Homo sapiens: one gene and its partners. The protein of the gene in region 4 purifies or fractionates together with the protein of the main gene of each other region. This does not show direct contact. Each region holds a gene or a part of one and is shown on either strand. Other genes may lie near its edges.

Evidence for each region.
Region 1: the proteins of COPZ1 (region 4) and ATL3 purify together in Homo sapiens (affinity purification with mass spectrometry, with the first as the bait; one large-scale study listed by BioGRID). This does not show direct contact.
Region 2: the proteins of COPZ1 (region 4) and SARNP purify together in Homo sapiens (affinity purification with mass spectrometry, with the first as the bait; one large-scale study listed by BioGRID). This does not show direct contact.
Region 3: the proteins of COPZ1 (region 4) and KLC1 fractionate together in Homo sapiens (co-fractionation; one large-scale study listed by BioGRID). This does not show direct contact.
Region 5: the proteins of COPZ1 (region 4) and RBM10 purify together in Homo sapiens (affinity purification with mass spectrometry; one large-scale study listed by BioGRID and IntAct). This does not show direct contact.
Region 6: the proteins of COPZ1 (region 4) and CTSV purify together in Homo sapiens (affinity purification with mass spectrometry; one large-scale study listed by BioGRID and IntAct). This does not show direct contact.
Region 7: the proteins of COPZ1 (region 4) and LMAN1 purify together in Homo sapiens (affinity purification with mass spectrometry; one large-scale study listed by BioGRID and IntAct). This does not show direct contact.

Annotation. Positions count from the first base shown.
Region 1 is NC_000011.10:63,629,877-63,633,376, forward strand, and holds part of ATL3 (atlastin-3), read right to left. Parts: intron 3,222-3,500; coding exon 3,150-3,221; intron 2,947-3,149; exon of another isoform or gene 2,318-2,946; intron 1,596-2,317; coding exon 1,164-1,595; intron 1-1,163. UniProt on the Homo sapiens protein: Atlastin-3 (ATL3) is a membrane-anchored GTPase that mediates the GTP-dependent fusion of endoplasmic reticulum (ER) membranes, maintaining the continuous ER network. It facilitates the formation of three-way junctions where ER tubules intersect.
Region 2 is NC_000012.12:55,811,225-55,814,724, forward strand, and holds part of SARNP (SAP domain-containing ribonucleoprotein), read right to left. Parts: intron 1-3,500. UniProt on the Homo sapiens protein: Binds both single-stranded and double-stranded DNA with higher affinity for the single-stranded form. Specifically binds to scaffold/matrix attachment region DNA. Also binds single-stranded RNA. Enhances RNA unwinding activity of DDX39A.
Region 3 is NC_000014.9:103,635,711-103,639,210, reverse strand, and holds part of KLC1 (kinesin light chain 1), read right to left. Parts: intron 1-3,500. UniProt on the Homo sapiens protein: Kinesin is a microtubule-associated force-producing protein that may play a role in organelle transport. The light chain may function in coupling of cargo to the heavy chain or in the modulation of its ATPase activity.
Region 4 is NC_000012.12:54,342,131-54,345,630, reverse strand, and holds part of COPZ1 (coatomer subunit zeta-1), read right to left. Parts: intron 3,426-3,500; coding exon 3,344-3,425; intron 2,407-3,343; coding exon 2,315-2,406; intron 172-2,314; coding exon 116-171; intron 1-115. UniProt on the Homo sapiens protein: The coatomer is a cytosolic protein complex that binds to dilysine motifs and reversibly associates with Golgi non-clathrin-coated vesicles, which further mediate biosynthetic protein transport from the ER, via the Golgi up to the trans Golgi network.
Region 5 is NC_000023.11:47,169,221-47,172,720, reverse strand, and holds part of RBM10 (RNA-binding protein 10), read right to left. Parts: intron 3,407-3,500; coding exon 3,223-3,406; intron 1,694-3,222; coding exon 1,463-1,693; intron 1-1,462. UniProt on the Homo sapiens protein: Binds to ssRNA containing the consensus sequence 5'-AGGUAA-3'. May be involved in post-transcriptional processing, most probably in mRNA splicing. Binds to RNA homopolymers, with a preference for poly(G) and poly(U) and little for poly(A).
Region 6 is NC_000009.12:97,029,177-97,032,659, forward strand, and holds the end of CTSV (cathepsin L2 preproprotein), read right to left. Parts: 3' UTR 501-3,483; downstream 1-500. UniProt on the Homo sapiens protein: Cysteine protease. May have an important role in corneal physiology.
Region 7 is NC_000018.10:59,342,266-59,345,765, forward strand, and holds part of LMAN1 (protein ERGIC-53 precursor), read right to left. Parts: intron 1-3,500. UniProt on the Homo sapiens protein: Mannose-specific lectin. May recognize sugar residues of glycoproteins, glycolipids, or glycosylphosphatidyl inositol anchors and may be involved in the sorting or recycling of proteins, lipids, or both.

The DNA of each region.
Region 1 (3,500 bases), on a different chromosome or scaffold from region 4:
AAAAAAAATTTTATAAATAAATAAATAAGCAACCCAATAAATAAATAACCAAGCCACTGGCTTTTGGAAGATTTTTAAATAAAAAAGATACCATCCCTTTCCTAATCCAGTAGGACTCAAAACCGAACATTTTTCGTTAAGTTCATAATTTTTTCAAAGTTCTTGCTTTTCAATGAAGTAAATTAATCTAGAGGGGGTGAGAAGTGAGAATCACATAAAAATTATGTCTGAAGAGCATGTAATTAGAAGTTGCCGACCAGGCGCAATAGCTCATGCCTATAATCCTAGCACTTTGGGAGGCCGAGGTGGGTGGATCACCTGAGGTCAGGAGTTCAAGACCAGCCTAGCTAACATGGCAAAACACTGTCTCTACTAAAAAAAAAAAAAAAAATACAGAAATTAACTGGGCATGGTGTCAGGCACCTATAATCCCAGCTACTCTTGGGAGGCTGAGGCAAGAGAATCACTTGAACCCAGTGGGCAGAGGTTGCAGTGAGCCAAGATCACACCACTTCACTCCAGCCTGGGCAAAAGCGTAAAAATCTGTCTCAAAAAAAAAAAAAAAAAAAAAAGTTGCCAAAGGGGAACACAATCAGTATGTCTAAGTTGGAATGTTTTTGCATTAAAGGGCTATTTTTGGGCTGGGCACGGTGGCTCACACCTGTAATCCCAGCACTTTGGGAGGCCGAGGCAGGCGGACCATGAGGTCAGGAGTTCGAGACCAGCCTGGTCAACATGGTGAAACCCTGTCTCTATTAAAAATACAAAAACTAGCGGGCCGTGGTGGCACACACCTGTAGTCTCAGCTACTTGGGAGGCTGACGCAAGAGAATCACTTGAACCTGGGAGGCGGAGGTTGCAGTGAGCCAAGATCATGCCACTGGACTCCAGCCTGGGCAAGAGAGCACAGCGAGACTTTGTCTCAAAAAAAAAAAAAAAAAGCGGGGCGGGGGCCTTTTTAGACATGGAAACAAAATATTAAGAATAAATATTAATATCCTAAAGGATAATAAAACATACAGTCTATCAGAAAACAACAGCCAACGGAGTGGCCACTGTCTCATGTCTTCACTATGAAATTCTTCCAAACTGAGATATTTTACAACAGAAGCACAAATATCTGCCCATTATCAACCCTCAGGCTCTTCAGCAGCACCACTTACCTGCTCCAACACATATGCGGCACCAAAATCAATAGCTCCGCCCAGCTCACGATATTGACCAGAATACCTGATGTAGCCCCAGGTGAGGAGTGCTATTAACAGTAGTCCAACCATACAGTTGAACAACTGGGCTACAACCTCAAGACCTATGAAGCCAGTGAGGCCTGAGGCTATGTACAAAGCTACAATGCCCGTGAACAGCACTGCAGGGGTTCGGAAGGTGCTGAAGACGTTCTTGCTACCATTGTGCTTGCAGAAGTTCTCATATAATTCCTTGATTTCCTCCTCCAGCTCCTGCTGGTAACGAAAGCTGAAATCCTTCCCACCCATCTTCTTGGTCTTCTTAAAATGGTCCAGAGCAAGTTGTTTGAATTCACAGTGCTTCTCCTCTAGAATGTCTGGAGACAAATAAGGTTTCTCTCCCCCACAAACCTAAAAAGAACAAAGAAACAATATGTTAAAAGATCTCTTCAAAAACAAGTGCCAAATAAAACATGAAAAGATAATGAAAGGATTAGAATGTTTTAAGATGTTAACAATGTATTAATAAGTTAACTTTTAAAAGATGACTAAGACCAATAAAGTCTAGTTTCACTTCCTCTGAAAAGCACACTTAAAAAACCAGGGTGATAATATCAATTGGAAAGAGCAGTGACACTGGGACGGGTGCGGTGGCTCACGCCTGTAATCCCAGCACTTTCGGAGGCCAGGGCGGGCAGATCACTTGAGGTCAGGAGTTTGAAATCAGCCTGGTAAACATGGTGAAACTCCGTCTCTACTAACACAAAAAAAATTAGCCGGGCGTGATGGCAGGCACCTGTAATCCCAGCTACTCAGAAGGCTGAGGCAGGAGAACCGCTTGAACCCGGGAGGCGGAGGTTGCAGTGAGCCGAGATCGCACCACTGCACTCCAGCCTGGGCGACAGAGTGAGACTCCGTCTCTAAAAAACAAAAGCAAACGGTCGACTTCTGCAGGGCCCAGGTGAGAAAGGCCCACCTGTGTCCTGGTTGAGGGTCCTCAGGGTTCTTTGGGACCCGAGGATTCCTGAAATCATGGATCACCCACATACGCTTTGAGACATGCTTTAATTTTTTTTTTCTGGAAGCCCTGCGACTTCCCTAAAAATTAAATGAATTATAGAACAGATCTATGACCAATGGTGGCAGAGTCTACATAGAACTATGCTTCGTGGTGCTCTGGGGAAACCTTCTGACTTGTTGGCTATGCTATTCAGTATGGCTGTATAGCTCACTGTGCTTCTGAATACGTTGGTGGTGTTGTCATGTGTTCTGGACCATCAATGGAGCCTACAATTCAAAATTCAGATACTGTCTTTGCACAAAATCTTAGTCGACATTTTGATAGTATCCAAAGAGGTGACATTGTGATTGCAAAAAGCCCAAGTGATCCAACATCAAATATTTGTAAAAGAGTAACTGGTTTGGAAGGAGACAAAATCCTCACCACTAGTCCATCAGATTTCTTTAAAAGCTACAGTTATGTCCCAGTGGGTCATGTTTGGTTAGAAGGTGATAAATCTACAGAATTCTACAGATTCCAGTTACTATGGACCTATTCCATATGAACTAATAAGAGGACGAATCTTCTTTTAAGATTCGGCCTCTGAGTGATTTTGGATTTTTATGTGCCAGCCTTAATGGCCACAGATTTTCTGATGATTAGTAAGCATTTATTCTTTTGACTTGATTATTGTCTCCTGCTCATGTGAATTTATTACTCCCATTGAAACTATGTACTTACCAATAAACTATTTGCTATTCAAAACAAAACAAAACAAAACAAGAACAAACAAACAAACAAAGAAATGGTAATAATTAGAAGGCCCCCGTTACCAGGACAACCTGAATATAAGTTTATTGCCTCATCACTTAAAGATACATTAAGTAGGATCAAGTTGGGCTTTTGAAGTCAGCAACAATGCCCAGATTATAGATATTTCAGAATAAGGCGTATGTCCCACGTACCTCTTCCATGTTGTTATAATAAATGTCCTTGGCAGAGGCTGCAGCTGCTAAGTTGTTGGCTTCAGCAGTGGCCTTTTAAGAGAGAAAAACGTGAACTGTAAATCCTTCCTCTTTTAACATTCCTCCACAAATAACCTAACAAAAATCTTCTCTATTCCCCATTCTTCCTTTTTTATTAACCTTCTATTTTTCTAGATTTCCATATAGTTCAACTGATGAAATAGAATACACTTTTTCTGCCAAATTTTCTACCAAAAAAAGGTAGAAGTTCATATACATAGAAATATGTATTCTTATACATAAGAATCTTTAGCAAAAATTAAATCTCCAAAATTCAAGGAAAATATTATT
Region 2 (3,500 bases), 1.5 Mb from region 4:
ACAATTAGGCTTAAAGAAATTCAATAACTTGCTTAAATATCACACAGCTTGGCCAGGTGTGGTGGCTCATGCCTGTAATCCCAGCACTTTGGGAGGCTGAGGTGGGAGGATTGCTCAAAGCCAGGAGTTTGAGGCCAGCCCTGGGCAACACGGGTAGACTCTGTCTCTACAGAAAATTAAAAAATTAATACACAGTTCAGGTGTGGTGGTGTGCCCCTGTAGTCCCACCTACTGGGTGGGAGCAGGGGCTGAGGTGGATCACTTGAGTCCAGAAGACTGAAGCTGCAGTGACCCCTGATTGTGCCACTACACTCCAGCCTGGGAGAAAAAGCGAGACACTGTCTCAAAAAACAAACAAACAAACAAACAAACAAACAAACAAACCACAGCTTGTAAATAGTAGACCAATATGCCAGCTCAAGTGTCTCTGATTTATGCTCAATATTAACTGCCAAAGTCTTGGCACTTCTTTCTTTCACTCTCTCCTCCTCAGCCTCCTTGCTAGCTCTTCTTCCACTCAAACCTGTAAATATTCACTAAGATTCCTTCTTTGGGCGTCTTGTCATTCCACATATATCAAAGGCTAATTCACTTCCCGATTTCAATCAGCGGCAAAGTCTATCAGCATTATCTTTAAAATATATCCAAAATCAAACCCTTCTCACCACGGCAAATGCTACTACTCTAGTCTTTCTTTCATACAGATTATTGTCAAAATTCTTCAGCCCTTGCCTCACTATAGTTTATTCTCAACAAAGTAACAGAGTGATCTTTTGAAAATTTAAGTCAGAACATGTCACTCCTCTAGTCAAACATCATCCATTGGTTTCGTATCTCACTAAGGGTAAAAGGCTGAATCCTATCACCTAAAAGGCCCTGCAGCTTTGCCCTCCCCTACCATTACCTTATTACCATTGCTCACTCTGATAAGCCAAACTGGTCTTGTGCTATTCCTCTAACACTTTGCACATAGCTCATTCCTTCACGTCCTTCAACTCTTTTTGTAAACATCTCCTTGTTAATGACTTCCCCAGTCACTCTATTTAAAATTACAATACCCTTCCCATTGTACTCCCTATTCCTTTCTCCTATTTTTCTCTATGTGCCTTATCAATCACTATTTGACATACCATAAATTTTACTTTTTATTTTGCCTTCCCTCAGTAAAATACAAGCTCTATGAGAGCAAGGATTTTGTCTCTGTTGTTCACTGCTGTATCTTTGGCACCCACAGTAACTGGGACATGGCAGGTGCTCCATATTTTCTGAATAAATCCCAAGTCTTCATCATCAGCTTTCAGCTCTTGAGTGAAAGACCCACATTTCCAACTGACTACCTGACATGTCCAAGTGGATGTCCCACAGACACCTAAGCCTCAAAATGAACTTACCTCTTCTGTGCAAAACTGGCTTCTCCTCCTCCCAACCCAGACTAAAGGTATCACTACCCAAACCCTGGAGTCATCTTTCATTTTTCCCATATCTAACTGATCTATAAATACTTGAAATTCTACTACATCCTAAATGTCTTTCAAATTCATTCCCATTCTTTTGAAGTCTTGACATGCTTATTCACTCAACAAATCGTTATTGAGCACCTACTGTATTATCAAGTATTATCTTGGATACAGGGAAATAATCATGAGCAAAACATAAGAGTCCTTCCCATTCCGAGCTTACAATCTTGCAGAGAACAAACCAATCAATGATCAGATAGCGTTTAGCTGATTTTTTTTTTTTGAGACGGAGTCTCACTCTGTTGCCCAGGCTGGAGTGCAATGGCGCGATCTCGGCTCCTGCAACCTCCGCCTCCTGGGTTCAAGTGATTCTCCTGTCTCAGCCTCCCGAGTAGCTGGGATTACAAGTGCGCGCCACCAGGCCCAGCTACTTTTGGTATTTTTAGTAGAGATGGGGTTTCACCATATTGGTCAGGCTGGTCTCAAACTCCTGACCTCGTGATCTGCCCACCTTGGCCTCCCAAAGTGCTGGGATTACAGGCATGAGCCACCGTGCCCGGCATGTTTAGCTGATTTTTTAAGAACACACAGGGTCTTATGAAATTATATAAAAAGTGGCCTGACCATGTTTGTGGATAGAACATAGAAAGCTTCCTTGGGTAAATAATATTTGAGTGAAACACCTGAAAGGGGTGTAGTAATTAATTAGATAAACGTGTTAGGGAGGAAGGGCAGCCGGAGTACTACAGCCGAAAGAAAACTCCAATTGCAGCATATGTGAAGGTTCTAGGTTGAGGTAAGAGGGAGAAGCAGTGTGCAATGATTAGAACATGAATTTTGGACACAGGCTGCCTGGAATTTTTTTTTTTTTTTTTTTTTTGAGACGGAGTTTCACTTTTGTTGCCCAGGCTGGAGTGCAATGGTGCCATATCGGCTCACCGCAACCTCCACCTACGCGGTTCAAGTGATTCTCCTGCCTCAGCCCCCCGAGTAGCTGGGATTACAGGCATGTGCCATCACGCCCAGCTAATTTTGTATTTTTAATAGTGACGGGGTTTCTCCATGTTGGTCAGGCTGGTCTCGAACTCTCGACCTCAGGTGATCCGCCTGCCTCGGCCTCCCAAAGTACTGGGATTACAAGCGTGAGCCACTGCACCCAGCCTGCTTGGATTTAATATACAACATTTTAGCTGTGCAACCTAAGGCAAGTTACTCAGTTACTCTCTCTGAGCTATGGTTTTTCTTATTTTCAAATGAGGATAATACAGGTATTTACCTTACAGGGTTATTATGAGAATTAAATCAGTTAGTGTATGTAAATGGCTTCAAACAGTGCTTTGCCACATAACAAATGCTAAGTGTTGGCAATTGATGAAGCATTCTGAAGAAATTAAATAAAATAAGGCCACAGTAGTTGAAGAGTTAGTAACTATGCTGGAGAGACGGGCAGGGATATAATTTAAAGGTTTTAAGCAGGGGAATGACTCCTATAATAAATATCTAAGTGGTGAAATCGCTCCCCCTACAAATCCCATCCGCCAAGAGAATACAAGCTGATCACATCAAGCTCCTCCTTTCAAACTTCCAAAGGCTCCCAGCCCTACTTCTTACATGACAAAGGCCAGAAGTCCTTACATAACTTAGAAAGCCCTTTTCAATATCACTCTGATTTACCTTTATAGTTTACCTATTTTCCTTTCCAAACTATCTTCAACTACCAATATATTTCCTCACTTCACTTTTCAATACAAATGTCTCACTATTCTCAACACTCTGACACTACTATCACTTTCTCCTCTCCTCTGCAATAGTTCCTTTTCTAATGTTTGACTGGATATCTGATACTGTTACAGTTCAAGCCATTTTCATCCACAGTTCAATCTCTCTTTCCAAATGTGTTAGTATGGGCCAGGAGTGGTGGCTCATGCCTATAATCCCAGCACTTTGGGAGGCCAAGGCAAGAGGATCACCTGAGGTCAGTCAAGTCCAGCCGGACCAATAACATGGTGAAACCCCATCTCTACTAAAAATACAAAAATTAGC
Region 3 (3,500 bases), on a different chromosome or scaffold from region 4:
AGCCTGGACAACAGAGCAAGACTCCATCTCAAAAAAAAGGAAAGAAGAATTCGCATCTGTCCAATATGTTAGTTTTGGGAGCATTTTCAAATGTGTAATATTTTATCGAAATAACAACAAAAAAAGTCTGCAGGTAGTTTGATGACCTATCATTATAATTCCCATTTACAGCTGAGGAAACTGGGATACATGAAGTGATTTAAGCTTATTCTACCAACAAGAAGAACACAATCCAAGGTCTCTTTGCCCCAAGTGTCCCTCTGCTTCAGGAACCCTACCACTCTGCATGCACGCACACACACACACACACCCTTGTGCTCACACACATACACCCTATGTTCATACATATGCACCACTGTGCTCACACACACCCCTATGTTCATACATACACACACCACTGTGCTCACGCACACACACCCCCACTGTGTTCATACATACACACCACTATGTTCACACACACCCACACACCCCACTGTGTTCATACATATACACCCAGACTCCAGCCTGGGTGACAGAGCGAGACTCTGACTCAAAAAAAAAAAAAAAAAAAAAAATTAATGAAATGAAAGCAAAGGCCAGAGAAGCAAAGGGCATCATCTTTGGTCACTTTACCTCCCCTGGTTTTATCATGTGAAATTCAGCCAGGTGGGGAAAGCTTACAGTGATGAAGAAAGTTAAGAAAAAAAAAAAACACCAAGCACTAAAAAGGGAAAAGGAATGTGTGGAATTAGATAGATGGTAGTTGCACAAAACAGAGAATACATTAAAAATCACTGCACTGCACGCTTTAAAATGGGGCATTTGATGTGATGTGACTTACATTTCAATTTTCTAAAAGAGAAAAAGAATGTGGTAGAAAAAGCAATAGGTCTGGGTGCACAGAATGAAGGACAGCCAAGAAAGAAATGTCAATTACTCTCAGTTCTCAAGTGTTAAATAAAGTTCCTATGAATACAGACGAGGGTAGCACATTAAGGAAAAATGGGATGGAGGGAAGAAAACAGAGGTTTTTTCCTTGCAAAGGTTTATAAGGGATGTTTTACCGAGAGATGGGCAACAGGAAACCCTGGCAGTGCTGGCCAGATCAGCAGGGTCAGGTCCCATCCCCATATACAGGCGCAGAAGCCCCAAACAATACCAGCAAAGAGGGTCCTGAGGTGAAGGGACCAGCCTACAGGAACAGTCCACGTCATATTCAGGGAAATAAATAGTATCTTGGTGGCCCAGCATAGTGGCTTACGTCTGTAATCCCAGCACTTTGGGAGGCCAAGGAGAGCAGATCATTTGAGCCCAGAAGTTAAAGACTAGCCAGGGCAATGCCATGAAACCCTGTCTCTACAAAAAACAAGCCGGTCATGGTGGTGCGCACATGTAGTCCCAGCTACTTCAGGGGCTGAGGTGGGACGATCACTTGAACACGAGGCTGCACTGAGCCACGACTGTGACACTGCACTCCAACCTAGGCAACAGAGCAAGATCCTGTCTCAAAAATTAAATAAATACATAAATATTTTTTTAAAAAGAAAACATTAACAACCAGACAAAACAAATGCATCTATTTGGCCTTTGGGTGACTTATTTATAGATATGCTTTCAGAATTAAGGAAAGCGGATGTTGCTTAGGCAACAACAAAAAATAAAAGATAAAAATAAACCCTGCGAAAATTTCTTTTTTTTTTTTGAAACAGAGTCTCACTCTGTTGCCCAGGCTGGAATGCAGTGTCGCAATCTCGACTCACTGCAACCTCTGCCTCCCGGGATCAAGCGATTCTTCTGCCTCAGCCTCCCAAGTAGCTGGGACTACAGGTGCACACCACCACGCCTGGCGAATTTTTGTAATTTTAGTAGAGACGGGGTTTCACCATACTGGCCAGGGTAGTCTCAAACTCCTGACTTCATGATCCACCCGCCTCGGCCTCCGAAAGTGCTGGGATTATAGGTGTGAGCCACCGCGCCCAGCCGAAAATTTCTTTAATAAAACTTGCCAGAGCATGGTTAAGAAAAATTAAAAGTATTGATTTATTAAAAGGCACTACCAAAAAATAAAGTTAAGCCATAGATTAGGAAAAAATATTTGCGACACATATATATCTGGCAAACGGCTTGTATAAAAAATACGTCAGCCTGGGCAATAGAGCAAGAGCAAGACTCCATCTGAAAAAAAAAAAACATGTAAGGAACTGCTGGGCGTGGTGGCTCACGCCTGTTAATACCAGCACTTTGGGAGGCCAAGACGGGCGGATCACGAGGTCAGGAGATCGAGACCATCCTGGCTAACATGGTGAAACCCATATCTAATAAAAATACAACAAAAAAAAAAATTAGCTGGGCGTGGTGGCAGGCGCCTGTAGTCCCAGCTACTCCAGAGGCTGAGGCAGGGGAATGGCGTGAACCCGGGAGGCAGAGCTTGCAGTGAGCCGAGATCGCGCCACTGCACTCAAGCCTGGGCAACAGAGGAGACTCCATCTCAAAAATAAATAAATAAATAAATATGTAAGGAACTTAAAAATACAAACAATCCAATTTTTTAAATGGGCAAAAGTCTTGAACAGACACTTTACAAATCCAGGCATACAAAGACCGACAAGCATGTAAGCGCTCACCATTATGAGTCATCAGTGAAATGCACATTAAAACTAACAAGATGCCACTATACCCCGCTAGAATGGCTCAGATGAAAAAGACAGGCAAGGCCAGGCACGGTGGCTCACGCCTGTAATCCCAACACTTTGGGAGGCCGATGGGGGGTGATCACCTGAGGTCAGGAGTTCAAGACCAGCCTGACCAACATGGAGAAACCCATCTCTACTAAAAATACAAAATTAGCCCGGCATGGTGGCCCATGACTGTAATCCCAGATACTCAGGAAATTAAAGCAGGAGAATTGTTTGAACTCGGGAGGCAGAGGTTGCAGTGAGCTGAGATCGTGCCACTGCACTCCAGCCTGGGCAACAAGAGTGAAACTCCATCTCAAAAAAAATAAAAAATAAAGTATTGAAAGTAGTCAAAATCATAGAAACAAAGTAGAAAAGATGGTTACCGGGGGAGGGCGAGGGAGGAGGAGATATCAGTATTTGGGGGCTACAGTCTCAGCGCTGCCAGATGAAAGAGTTCCAGAAATGTGGAACAACGATGTGCATATCCTTAACACTACTGAATTGTGAACTTTTAAATGGTTAAAATGGTACATCTTTGAAAAAAATTGAAGTGGCGCGAGGTTTCCCCAAGAAAAAGTAATGATAGGATTAAACAGCATTATCATGATTCACTTGAAGCTGCAGCTTTAAGTACTGCAAGGTGATTCAAAGCTTATACCGCGAAGCAAAAAAACTGAGTTAGAATCTTGACTTCACAGCTGTGTAACTTTGGTTTCTGAAACTTCCCCTCTCTCACCCTCAAATTCCTCAACAGTAGAATCTCAGTAACAGTACCTATTTTACTTTTTTTTTTTCTTTTTGAGATGGGAGTCTCACTCTGTCGCCCAGGCTGGAGTGCCGTGG
Region 4 (3,500 bases):
ATCCCCTACAATCCCTGGGCCTGAAGAATGGTTACTTTATCTCCCAAAAAGAAATCAACAATGCCCTGCTCTTTCCATCATAACTTGAGGGGAAAAAAAAGAATGTCCTGCTCACCTCAGCATCTGGCTCAATGAGTCGAAGAGACAGTTCAGAACAGCCATAAGCATCAGCTGTTGGGAAACAGAGGAGGCAGAAGGATAAGGTTCAAGGCCCTGAAAGCTGCTACCTAAAAACAAAACCTCCTAATTCATTAAACATCAAAAGACACAGGCTTTCACAAAGGACCAAAAACATAAAGTGGAAGTGAGAGCACAACAGGAAAAGGATCTGTGATTTCTCACAGAAATAAATTCTGCTACATGATTCCACAATTCAACATCTTTTAGCCAAAAGTTTAAACAGAACTTCCCTGTCACAGTCCTCTACAATGTCTTCACCAACTGTATATGTGTTACCTGATGTCTTAGGTAGAGAAATTACTAACCAAGCAATAGCTGAGGTCAGAGGAAGGCTTCAGAGTTAGTGTAAAAAGCATGGACTTTAATTGGCTGGGCACAGTGGGTCACACCTGTAACGTCTAGACCCTGTCTAGACTCTGACTCTATCCCAGCACTTTCGGAGGCTGCAGCAGGCCGATTGCTTGAGCTCAGGAGTTGAGACCAGCCTGGGCAACATGGCAAAACCCTGTCTACAAACAATACAAAAAAAAATTAGCCAGGCATGGTGGTGGGCACCTGCAGTCCCAGCTACTTGGGAGGCTAAGGTGGTAGAATCACTTGAGCCTGGGAGCCAGAGGTTGCAGTGAGCCAAGATCGCACCACTGCAGTCCAGCCTGGGAGACAGAACAAGACCCTGTCTCAAATTTTTTTTTTTTTTTTGAGAGTCTGGCTCTGTCACCCAGGCTGGAGTGCAATGGCGCAATCTCAGCTCACTGCAACCTCCACCTCCCAGGTTCAAGCAATTCTCTTGCCTCAGCCTCCCAAGTAGCTGGGATTACAGGCGCCCACCACCACGCCCAGCTAATTTTTGTTGTTGTTGTTGTTTGTTTGTTTGAGACGGAGTCTCGCTCTGTTGCCCAGGCTGGAATGCAGTGGTATGATCTCGGCTCACTGCAACCTCCGCCTCCCAGGTTCATGCCATTCTCCTGCCTCAACCTCCCGAGTAGCTGGGACTACAGGTGCCCGCACCACGCCCAGCTAATTTTTTGCATTTTTAGTAGACATGGGGTTTCACTGTGTTAGCCAGGATGGTCTCAATCTCCTGACTTCGTGATCCGCCTGCCTCGGCCTCCCAAAGTGCTGGGATTACAGGTGTGAGCCACCATGCCTGGCCTGTATTTTTAGTAGAGATGGGATTTCGCCATGTTGGCCAGCCTGGTCGCGAACTCCTGACCTCAAGTGATCCGCCCACCTTGGCCTCCCAAAGTGCTGGGATTACAGGTGTGAGCCACCACGTTCGGCCTATGTCTCAAAATTTTTTAAAAAGCATGGACTTTAAGTCAGACAGATATGGGTTGGAATCCAAGCTGAGCCATTTTCTACATGTGTGACCCTGAGAAAGTTACTAGGTTGAACCACATCAGATAACTGCCACTTTTGTACTTTTCTCAATGGTCACATACAAGTAATTTCATATAGTTCTTCATGGTTTGGTTTCCTCATTTGTAAAACAAAGGCACCAATGCCTACAACTCATAGAAGTGCTATGAGGTTTAAATAACAATATACTTTACAAAGCACTTATACCAATAATAAGAGCTCAGTAAGAGTTGACTTTCTCAAACTTTCACTTTTGCCTCAAATTATCTGGGGGCTTATTTTTATTTATCTATTCTCCTAGAAGTTGCTATCTGAGGCAAACAGCTTTTCCTGCATATAGGAAGCAGGTTAGGACTATACCCAAGGTCTTCTCCAGTGATCCATTCAGAATGTATGGTTTCAACATGACCCAGGTTGTTAGCTAATTGGCTCAAACTCAGTCAGGTATGGACCCTTCATAGAAGAAGCAAGTATCCCCCTGCAGTCTTGACCATACCTCAGAAATCCATCTTAAAAAACACTACTCAGGGAAAGGTATTAAAACATATATGATGTTTCCTAATGGATGCAAAAGATTAATCTAGGAAAACTTCCTTTCTAGGCGATTCATTTGCCGGGCCATGTTTGTGAGGCTGGTGGGATCTCTGACAACTTCATTAGCTTGGTCAGAAGCCAGAGGAACACGGCTCTATTAGGGCCCCAAACCAGTGGCTATGTACTGCCTGTGGTTTAGAAAGTAGGATCAGAAATAGCAAAGAGGGGTGGGGATTCTCACCTCATTTTCATAGGAGCTGCCAATCACATAGAAATAGAGATCTATACTGCTTTTGTATACCACTGTCAGGCCTTCCAAGAGGGCAATTTCACCTGGTGGGGGAAAAAAAGTAAAAATAGTGGGTGGCTTGAGATAAGGAAGTAGGAAAGAAGGAGTTACCAGCCAGGCGCAGTGGCTCATGCCTGTAATCCCAGCACCTTGGGAAGCCGAGCCTGGCGGATCACCTAAGGTCAGGAGTTCAAGACCAGCCTGGCCAACACAGTGAAACCCCGTCTCTACTAAAAATACAAAAATTAGCCGGGCGTGGTGGTGTGCACCTGTAATCCCTGCTACTCAGGAGGGTGAGATGGGAGAACCACTTGAACCTGGGAGGCGGAGGTTGCAGGGAGCCGAGATCTCGCCACTGTACTCCAGCCTGGGTGACAGAGAGAGACTCTGTCTCAAAAAAAAAAAAAAAAAAAAAGAAGGCGTTACCATGAATTCCTAGTATCCAGCTCTTTTGGGCTAAGGTGAGGCCGCCTGTAATGACTTCCAAAGCCAGAAGATGATCTGCACTTTTTGGGTGGTGGCAGGAGAAGAGAAGTATGAACTTGGGGGAGTCTAAATGTATCTTCTGTAACCACCATCCTCTGTTCCTGCCCACTATACCTATTTCCCTACTTGTATATGAGACAGGATACTAGTCGATCCTTCGGAGGTGAAAATGCAGAGCGGTCACCTTTACAGACTTCCATTTACCTGCCCTAATGGATGCGGTACAATAAGCAGAGCTGCAATTAAATTTGTCAAGTGAGGCTCATAAATCCAGGGACTAGACAGGTAGCTAACAGCCAACCTTCCAGCATGGTATTCCCGCGTGAGGTACACTCACCTCCCCATTACATTCTGAAGAGTTTATTATACAAGGGGAAGAAGGAAAAAAAAAGAAAAAGGCAGAGTCATTTCATCCTTTCTCTGCAGCCCTGTTACCACCCCCTTTCCACCATGGTTCCCCCCAGCACGGGTAGTAGTGAAAGGAAAATGACCTACTGTCAGTCCGATGGGTCTTGTTGAAAATGTTCTTCTCAAAGGCCTTTTGCTCCTTGACACTGGGGTAGGTGTCGTCATAGTACTGGTCAGAGGGAAAGAAGACAGGGTTGGGTCACTAGAGCTGGAAGCCAGAATGATTAGTGACTATGTTTTGCCC
Region 5 (3,500 bases), on a different chromosome or scaffold from region 4:
ACCCCCGCCCCTGCCCTGCTGACCTGCAGCTTGCGTCAAAAGAGATCCATGACATAAATGTCAAACTGGGGAGGACAGGAGTCTGAGCAAATCCCAGCCATGTGCCCTAGACCATGACTGTAGCAATAACTTAGGGTGGAGACAAAAAGCAAAAAGATGTAGTCCTGGGGATTGCTTCCCAGATGGAGTAGGCCAGAGGGAAACTGCAGAGGCAATTCAGGATTTGGCCCAGGTGAGGCAGGGTCTCTAGGCCAGTGAGGTCTCTCACTGAGGACCAGGAGCCTATGCCAGCCATTCTTGGGAAGGAGTCTTCATGTCTCTGGGCCTCAGTTTCCCCACCAGGTTAAACAACAGACAGGACATTAGCCTTACACACACCCATACACAGGGTGAAAAGGAAAAACACACAGAAGAGCTTATCAGGACTCCAAACTCAGGGAAGGCTGAGGAAGCAGCAAAAAGTGGGCTCTAGGGTCCAGCTGCCCGGGTTCAGACTCCAGCTCTGCTCTGCCACTCACTGGCTATGAGACCTGGGGCAAGTCACATTCCCACTCAGGGCTTGGTTTCCTCATCCGAAGGATGGAATACAAAGAGTACCTTCCCTGCTGGGCTGCCATGGGGACTGAATCATACCTAACACATGGCCCACCCTGAGATACATTCTCAACAAATGTCAGCAACCAGCTACTGTCTGACCCTGAACAGGGCAGGTGGGCCAGACCTTAGAAACCCTCAAATACACAAGTGGGATTTTCTCTGTTACAAAATGAGCAGCTAGCAGATTTCAGAGGAGGGCTGATCAGAGAATTCATGGGGGTAGGGGGTGAGGGGCGGCGGAGTAGACTAAGAAGGACCAAGATCAGGACACTATTCTTGGAGGTTATTCTGGTAGGCCTCGTGGGGCTTCAGTGTGGCTGTCATGAGAAGTATGTATGAAAAGGAAACAGGAGGAAAGGGAGGCAGGCGTGGAGGCTGTTAGCAGCCACCCAAGGCTCTGAGGCCAGGCCAGGCTGCTGACAAAAAAGGATGGGGGAAAAAGAGAAGGAAATTTCAGAAAATCCCATCCCTCCCCCAATGGTTACAGGGCCCCAGTGTCATCTCTGCTACCAGCAATAGCCAGCACTGGCCCGGTGAGCGTCTGGCCCATGATGCACACATGCAAAATGGCTGGATGACCAGTGGAATGTGCAGGACTGCTCTTCTCCCGCCCATACCCACCACTACCAGACACCCATGGCCAATGTCCCTTGGCCAAGCCGGCCTCTCTGACACTCCTCCCTCCAGACCGGGGGGCCGATGGGACCTGCCCACAGAGGACGGATCAGTGCTGGGGGATAGGAGCTGGAGGGGGAGAAGGGATGAAAGGCGCTGAGGTTGCAGGTGAGGGAGGGGTGGGGAGAAGTTGAGGGCCCTGGAGGAGACCCAGCCTGGCCTCCTGCCCGGGGCCATGGGGGGCACGTACGTCATCCTCAGTGGCTGCCTGTGGCAGCATCCTCAGCATGACGATGTTACTGGCCTTCTCCTCCTCCTCCTCATCCTCCTCCTCCTCCTCCTCCTCCCCTTGCTCGGTCCGATAGTCCTGGTCCCGATAGTCGCCGTCTCGGGGGAAGCCTGGCGGGCCGGTGGGGCTGTGCCTGTGCCGCCGCCGCCGCCTACGCTGAGTCTCGGAGCCCGGGGAGGCCTCGTAGGAATCCTGGCCGACAGAATGAGATGAGTGACACCAGACGGGCAGTCAGTCTGGGCAGGCCTAGGAGCTGGCCGCTGGCTCTGTGAGGCAGGCAGGCTCTGAAAGCCAGGGATGTGCGGGCTCCGGCTAAAGGCTCAGGCAGGCAGGGTGGGCAGGCCCCGGCCTGCAATCTTTCTGGGACTGTAAATTCTCCATGGGGTCCTTTTGGGGGCTGCCTTCAGTGGGTGGGGAGAGGTAGGTGACAGTATTGGTGTGGGGGGAACTCCCAAAGGTAGCTGACAAGACACAGCTTAAACCTCCTTGGGGCAAGATGGCCTGGGGTCAGCACACCAGACCCCACCCTTGATTTTCCTCTCCTCTCTGGCCAGCTCAGGGGGTGTGCTCAATTGCTTCACTGTACCACCGAAGGCTGCATGTCTCCTACGGTTCCACCCTGCAACCAAGCTGGGGGCATAAGAACAGCTTCAGATCTCAGCCAGAGCCAGGCAGCAGGAGCTGGTGGAGGTGGTGTGAGGGCTGCAGACACTCCCTCCTCAGTCCCTGATCCTCAGCCTTGGCCAGTCCTCCACCACACACCACGCTCAAAACGGTATGGCTGTTGGGCTCTGGGCTGTTGCCCAATCCATCCATTCCAGGACTAAGCAGAGCAGGCCTGGGGCCAAAGCCCTCCCGCCCACAGTGGGGAAGCACCAGATAACTTGGTGCTCCATTCCCACCCTGGCCAGGGCCCAGTGCTCCTGGAGACGTCTGGGCACAGCTTGACAGCTGCCACTGGAGAAGCCTGGCAGTCCACCAAAGGGGTTTTTGCCCTGGACCCTCCAGAGGGCAGTGGGCAGCTCACAGACTGCCCCCCAGGGCTGGGCTTGCAAGAACTCCCTTCCCAGCCTGCTGGACAGGAGAGCTGCCTGCTCGCATGGACCAGGTCCCTGACTGCCCCTCCAACTGGGATTCCCCTAAGGCAAGCCTGTTTCTTCCCCTCGGGTGGGGGCTCCCTGATGGTGTAAACATCGCGCCTCATCCCGCAGGCTAGGGTGAACTACCCAACATGGCACTGGCTTCTCCAGAAGGGTCCTTCCCTTCTGTCTAGGGGCTCTATCACCACTGGGAATGCCCATGGCTGGCCTCCCAGAGCTCCTCAGCTTGGTGGTCTGCAGTCCCCTTGTTGTCCTCCCAACCCCAGACGCCGGGTCCCATGGAAGAGGCTCTTCAAGTGCCCAAGTTGGCTGGGAGCGGGCAGTACAGGGTTCACAGTGAGCCATGGGCCCGAACTGAACAACAGGGAGAAAGGGAAAGAGTGGTGGCCAGGGGCCCTCAGAAGTACAGAGCCAAGCATGTGGAAGCCAGGGAGACCCAGGTTGGGAGAGGAGCCCTCAGAGAGGGGAGTGGGAACAGGCCCTCCAGGTGAGGCAAAGCCACCGAGCACAGTCTGAAGGCACGGGAGTGGAGAGCTGCCTGCACACGGTGCTGCAGCCAGACACAGAGGGCCCTTGGGAGCCCATCCCAGCCAGGCCTGGCGCAGCGCGCCCCCTCCTCACCTCCGCACTCTGCTCCTCAGATGAGTCGTCATAGTCATGCTTGCCCTCCTGGCTGCCATACTCGCGAGGATATGAACGGTAGTCCATGTCCCGGTAGTCGTGGTCTCGGCTGCGGTTCTCCCCACCATCATCCTGCGAGCGGTCAGTGGCTCCATAGCGGCCAGTCCTGTCACCACGACCACCACTAGTGGAGGAAGAAGGATGGGGAGGGATCAGAAGGTTGCCCTTTCTAAAAGGTGCAAGAGGCCCAGGTGATGTGTTCTCGTAGGGTTTTGGTT
Region 6 (3,483 bases), on a different chromosome or scaffold from region 4:
CTTGGCTCACCGCAAGCTCCGCCTCCCGGGTTCACGCCATTCTCCCGCCTCAGTCTCCTGAGTAGCTGCGAATACAGGTGTCGGCCACAACGCCCGGCTAATTTTGTTTTTGTATTTTTATTAGAGATGGGGTTTCACCATGTTAGGCAGGATGGTCTTGATCTCATGACCTCGTGATCTGCCTGCCTCGGCCTCTCAAAGCACTGGGATTACAAGTGTGAGCCACCGTGCCTGGCCATGATTTTCTTAATGACATTTTTTCCTCTAGCTTACTGTAAGCATACAGTATTTTACAATACATACACAAAATATGTGTTAATTGGCTGTTTATGTTATCAGCAAGGCTTCCAGTCAACAGTAGGCTATTAGTAGAAAAGTTCTGGAGGAATTAAAGTTATATGCAAATATTTGGCTGCACAAGGGTTGGTGCCCCTAACCTCTGCATTGTTCAAGAATCAACTGTATCCAAATGAATAAATACACTGCAGAACAAGAACACGTTGCAGCTTAGTAATAGTTTTACTTATTAACTTACTTAAAAAGAGATAATGAACATTTGTGAAATTGTTTACAATTGAGATATCCATACACACAAGTCATGTGCTGTGTGATGTTTTGGTCAGTGACTGCATATATGATAGTGGTCCCATAAAATTATGATCCTATATTTTTACTGTACTTTTCTGTTCAGATACACGAATACTTACCACTGTGTTACAACTGTGTACAGTACTCAGCACAGTGATGTGTTGCACAGGTGCGTAGCTTAGGAGCAACAGGCTGTACCATATAGCCTAGGTGTGTAATAGGCTATACCATCTAGGTTTGTGTCAGTGTACTCTATGATGTTCACGTCACGATGAAATCACCCAAGACACATTTCTCAGAATGTATCCCCATCATTAAGCAACACATGACTGTATATATACATTTACTAATGTTTGTTATTTTTAATACAGAAAAGTTTCTTCTTTGCTTTTTAGAAATTTTATCAGTTACAAAAGGAAATAACATTTAGAAAACAGTTTCAACTTTCATAGGCAAAACATACACATGAACCACACATAGGGCTGAGTGGATGTTTCCTTATTGCTAAGTCCATAGCCTCTAGTATGATGCCCAAGTGTCATAACTACACTCCCACATCAGCAAACTCCTCCCTCTTAATATGCTCAGTGATTTCTATCTCACCCTTCCTTACTTCCTTTGCAATTCAAGTAAGAAAACAAACAATTTAGATGTTCGAGTATAGGAAATATTTGCCGAGACCAGCTTGGTCATGGAGACCCTAACCCAGAGGCGCTAGAGAAATTAAAGACACACACCCAGAAATATAGCATGCAGAGTGGGAAATCAGGGGACTCACAGCTTTCAGAGCTGAGAGCCCCGAACAGAGATTTACCCATGTTTATTGACAGCAAGCCAGTGATAAACATTGTTTCTATAGATTATAGATTAACTAAAAGTATTCCTTCCCAAACGAAACAAAGGCATGGGGTCTGGCTAGTTATCTGCAGCAGGAACATGTCCTTAAGGCACAGATCGCTCATGCTATTGTTTGTAGTTTAGGAACGCCTTTAAGCCGTTTTCCCGCCCTGGGTGGTCCAGGTGTTCCTTGCTCTCATTCCGGTAAACCTTCAGCATGGCGTCATGGCCATCATGAACCTGTCACAGTACTGCAGAGATTTTGTTTATGGCCAGATTTGGGGGCATATCCCCAGCAAATATTGGTTAAGTCTGTGCTTCAGACTAGATTTTTCAAGTCTACTGGCTTGTTTGAAAAACGCTTTTAGACAACACATCAGGTTTGTAACTTTTCACAAGTTTAAAATATTTCAAAGGTCTTTGAAAATTATAAAATCTTGAAATATCTCTATTTTAGTTTTCCGAGGGGTGCTGTTTTGACAGATTTGAAATTTTTTTATTTGAATAAAAAGCCATCACTCTTTCATTCAATTTAGTGCCTAGATGTTTCCTTAGAGCCTGGGTTGTTGTTCCAAGAATCTGTGGAGAGTACCAACTTAGCCTGCTGCTGCAAAGACGAAGGAATCCTTTCTCAGAGAAAACTCAAGACTGAATATGGTAGACTGGATTTTCCAGAGATGGCTGTGGACATAGGCTATCAAAGGGTTTTTGGGATACACAGTCCCACATGCCCCTTCCCTCCCATTGCATTCACAATGGATCACCTTTCGATTAAATTTCACCAGCTCATCCCCGGTAATTTTTTATTTGACTGGAAACATGGGCTTTTAAAACACACACAGGGCTCTCCTTTAGCCTGCAGAATGTGGGTATATCTTTACTATTTTCTCCTGCTCATAAAAATACATGCTTTTCACTAAACGAGTTAAATAACCACCCATAATTCACCCACAAGTTTGGTGTACTTTCTTCCAGTATTTTAAATATGCAAAAATATCGTTTTATTTGTATTTACTACCTGTGTAACTATATGCTTAGCCTTTTTCCCCCCATTTTGAGTTTATTTTTAATTCAGGGATTAGGTAGCCAGAGTCTGGCCTAGTGACTTCTGACCTTTCACTTGTGATCTCTTATCCATCTTCGGCCAGAGGCCTCTTTTTGTAGCCCAGCCTCATCTCTTGTGGACCTTGAACAAATTTCTCCAGCTACTGTCAAATGCCTGAGATTTGTTAACCACACCATTTATTTTTGCTAACACTAGTTAACAAATAAGCTTTTCTAGAAGAGCTAGGTGGAATATGTCATCAGAGACTTGGAATGAAAACAAAATACCCTTGGTAACTTACTTGCACCTGCGTCTTCCTCAGACTGCAAAGTGGTCACCAGCAATTCAGAGAGGCTCCAGTAACAAGCAGCTTCACTTTTTATCACGTAACCTAACCATCTTGAGGTTATGTGTCAAAGGAAGAAGACATTTCCTTTTCTAAAAAGTCAACTGCTTTCTTCTTTACTAAAACAATTTAGGGGCTGGGCGCAGTGGCTCACATCTGTAATCCCAACACTTTGGGAGGCTGAGGCAGGTGGATCACGAGGTCGAGAGTTCAAGACCAGCCTGGCCAAGATGGTGAAACCCTCTCTCTACTAAAAATACACTAGGCGTGGTGGCACGCGCCTGTAATCCCAGCTACTCGGGAGGCTGAGGCAGAGAATTGCTTAAACCCGGGAGGCAGAGGTTGCAGTGAGCTGAGATCACACTACTGCACTCCAGCCTTGGTGACAGAGTGAGAGAGACTCCGTCTCATAAAAAAAAAAAATGTAGGTTTGTCCTTCCAAATTGTTTATCAAATTTTGGTAGATTCAGGAGTTGGGTAACACACAGTAACTGGGCAGCTGATATAAAGTCTGTATTTTTATAACTACTCAAGAGCCAGGAAGCCAGCTTTCTGCTAGCATCTTTCTCCTAACATACCATTGGCACATGAAGTTATTATTTCAGAGCTTAATTATATTTCCTGACTACACAAAAAGCCAATGCATTAAAAAAAGGCCCACCTTTAT
Region 7 (3,500 bases), on a different chromosome or scaffold from region 4:
CTCCTGAAATTATTCCAAAACACTGAGGAGAGAATTCCCCCTAACTCATCCTATGAGGGCGGTATCACCCTGATACCAAAACCAGACAAGGACACAAAAAAATAGAAAACTACAGACCCATATCCCTGATGAACAAAGATGCAAAAATCCTCTACAGAATACCAGCAAAATGAATCCTACAGCACATCAAAAAGATAATACAGCACGATCAAGGTGGGATTTATCCCAGGGATGCAAGGAGGGTTCAACATATAAAAATCCATATATATGATACACCACATAAACAGAATTAAGAACAAAACACATGATCATTTCAACAGACTCAGAAAGGACATTCAATAAAATTCATCATCCCTTCATGATAAAAATCCTCAATGAACACACCTCAACATTAGGCCACATATGACAAACCCACAGCCAACCTCACACTTAACAGGGAAAAGTTGAAAACATTCCCTTTAAGAACTGGAACAAGACAAGGATGCCACTTTTATCACTCTTACGTGTAATAACATAATACTAGAAGTCTTCACCAGAGCAATCAGGCAAGAGAAAAAAATAAAAGGCATCCAAACTGGAAATGAGTAAGTAACATTATCCCTGTTTGCTAATGATATGATCTTATATCTCAAAAATCCTAATGACTCCACCAAAAAACTCTTAGATTTGATAAATGAATTCAGTAATGTTTCAAGATAAAAAATTAATGTACAGAAATCGGTAGCATTTTCATATACTGATAATGATCTAGCAGACCAAATCTAGAAGGCAATTCCATTTACAACAGCTAAAAAAAAAAAAAAACACCTAGAAATATATTTAACCAAGAAGGGGAAAGCTCTCCATAAGGAGAACTTCAAAACAACGATGAGAGAAATGGTAGATGACACAAACAAATGGAAAAGTATCCCATGCTCATGAATTGGAAGAATCAATATTGTTAAAATGACCATACTGCCCAAAACTATCTACTAGTTCTAGACACTCCCAATCAAATTACCAATGTCATTTTTCACAGAATTAGAAAAAAAAAATCCTAAAACTCATATGGAAAAAAAAGGGAGCCCAAATAGCCAAAGCAATGCTAAGCAAAAGGAATAAATCTGGAGGCATCACATTACCTGACTTCAAATTATACTACAAGGCTAAAGTAACCAAACCAGCATAATACTGGTATAAAAACAGACACATAAGTCAGTGGAACAGAACAGAGGACCAGGAAATAAACCCACATACCTACAATCAACTGATCCTCAACAAAGTCAACAAAAATAAACACTGGGGAAAGGACATCCTATTCAATAAACGGTGCAGAAAAAATTGAATAGCTATATATAGAAGAATGCAAGTGGACCCATACTTCTCACCATATGCAAAAATTAACTCAAGATGGATTAAAGACCTAAACATAACACATGAAACCATACAAATCCTAAAAGAAAACTGAGGAAAGACTCTTCTGCATATTGGCCTAGGTAAAGAACTTAGACCAAGTCCTCAAAGGCAAACACAAGAAAAACAAAAATAGACAAATGGGACTTAAACTAAAAAGCTTCTACACAGCAAAAGAAACAATCAACACAATAATCTAACCTACAGAATGGGAAAAAATATTTGCAAACTATGCATCCAACGAAGGGCTAATATCCAGAATCTACAAGGAACTCAAACAACTCAAGAGAAAAACAAAAAGCCCATTAAAAAACTGGGCAAAGAGCATGAACAGACATTTTTCAAAAGAAGACACGCAAGTGGCCAACAAATAAATGAAGAAATGCTCAACATCACTAATCATCAAAAAAATCCAAATTAAAACCACAATGAGATACTATCTTACACAAGTCACAATGGCCATTATTAAAAAGTCAAAAGACAACAGATGTTGTCAAGATGTGGAGAAGAGGGAATGCTTATATGCTGTTGGTGGGAATGTAAATTAGTACAACCTTCATGGAAAACAGTATGGAGAATTCTCAAAGAACTAAAATTAGAATTACCGTTTGATCCAGCAATCCCACTACTGGGTGTTTACCCAAAGGGAAAGAAATCATTATATCAAAAAGATACTTGCACTTATACGTTTATTGCAGCCCTATTTACAATAGCAAAGATATGGAATCAACCTAAATGCCCATCAACAGAGAACTTGATAAAGAAAATGTGGCGTGTGTGTGTGTATATATGTATGTATATACTATAGACTACTACTCAGCCATAAAATAAGAATGAAATTATGTCTTTTGCAGCAACATGGATGGAACTGGAAGTGATTATCCCAAGTGAAATGACTTAGAAAGTCAAATACCATACATTCTCACTTATAAGTAAAAGCTAAACAATGGGTACACATGGACAAATGGAGTGGAATAACGGACACTGGAGACTACAAAAGGTGGGAGGGGAATGAAGGTTGAAAATTACCCACTGAGTACCAGGTTCATTAGGGTGAGAGTACACTAAAACCCCAGACTTCACCACTATATGACACAAGCATATAAGAAATCTGCACTTGTACTCTTCCTAAATACATAAAAAGTTAAATAAAATTAAAATGGAAAAATATTTCTCTTTCATTACACTGTGTGATTCTACTTATAAGAATAGGCAGAACTAATCTACAGTGATAACAATAAGAATAGTGATGGGCTCTGTGGAGAAGGTTGTTGACTTTAAGGAGGCATGAGGGAACTTTCTGGGATGATAAAAATGTTCCGTGTACTGATCGGGGTGATGGTTAAATGGGTATACACATTTGTCAAAATTTACTAAACAATACTTTTCAAACACTAAAGTCAGCTTCAGGATATACTCACAAATTTTATGTGATGATGTTTAAAACAAATTCAAAATAAGAATGACCTTTATGTTTCATTTTTAAATTCATTAAGTCTGACTCATACTGTTGATCATTAAGAGAACTGCATACTACATAGAGTTCAAATGCTAGCCACAGCCTTTATTAAGTACACCTTTGATCACTTATGCTGACTGGGAACAATTCAGATAAAAAGCTAGCAGATAATATAAATTCCCTCAATTTGGCCTTAAAATGTTTTATTTTTGACATTAGCACACTCACGTTCTTAATAACATTGGGTTAGACTAGTATTTTATAATTTTCAAGTATACAGTCCAGGATTCTATCGAGTAGTATGGGGAGGAGAAGCAGATATGTCACATTACTTTCACAACAGTTTTGATAGATTTTAAGGATTATCTCCACACTATAAGGTAATTATGTGTCACTAAAACCAAAAATATACACTTTTGATGATTTCAGTCAAAAAATATTTACTGAACCTGAACTACTAGGTTAGCATTGTTTTGGATTTATTTTTAGGCTTAGTGGTCACAGCAATGAATATTAACAAAATCCCTGTCCTCATGGAGCTTTCACTCTAGCGGTCCCATTCCTCCAAATAACCATGGTACTCTTTATTTCATACATGACTAAGCCACATTCTCACTGGTAAAAATGCCAATCTCTTGACTCTTAAAGA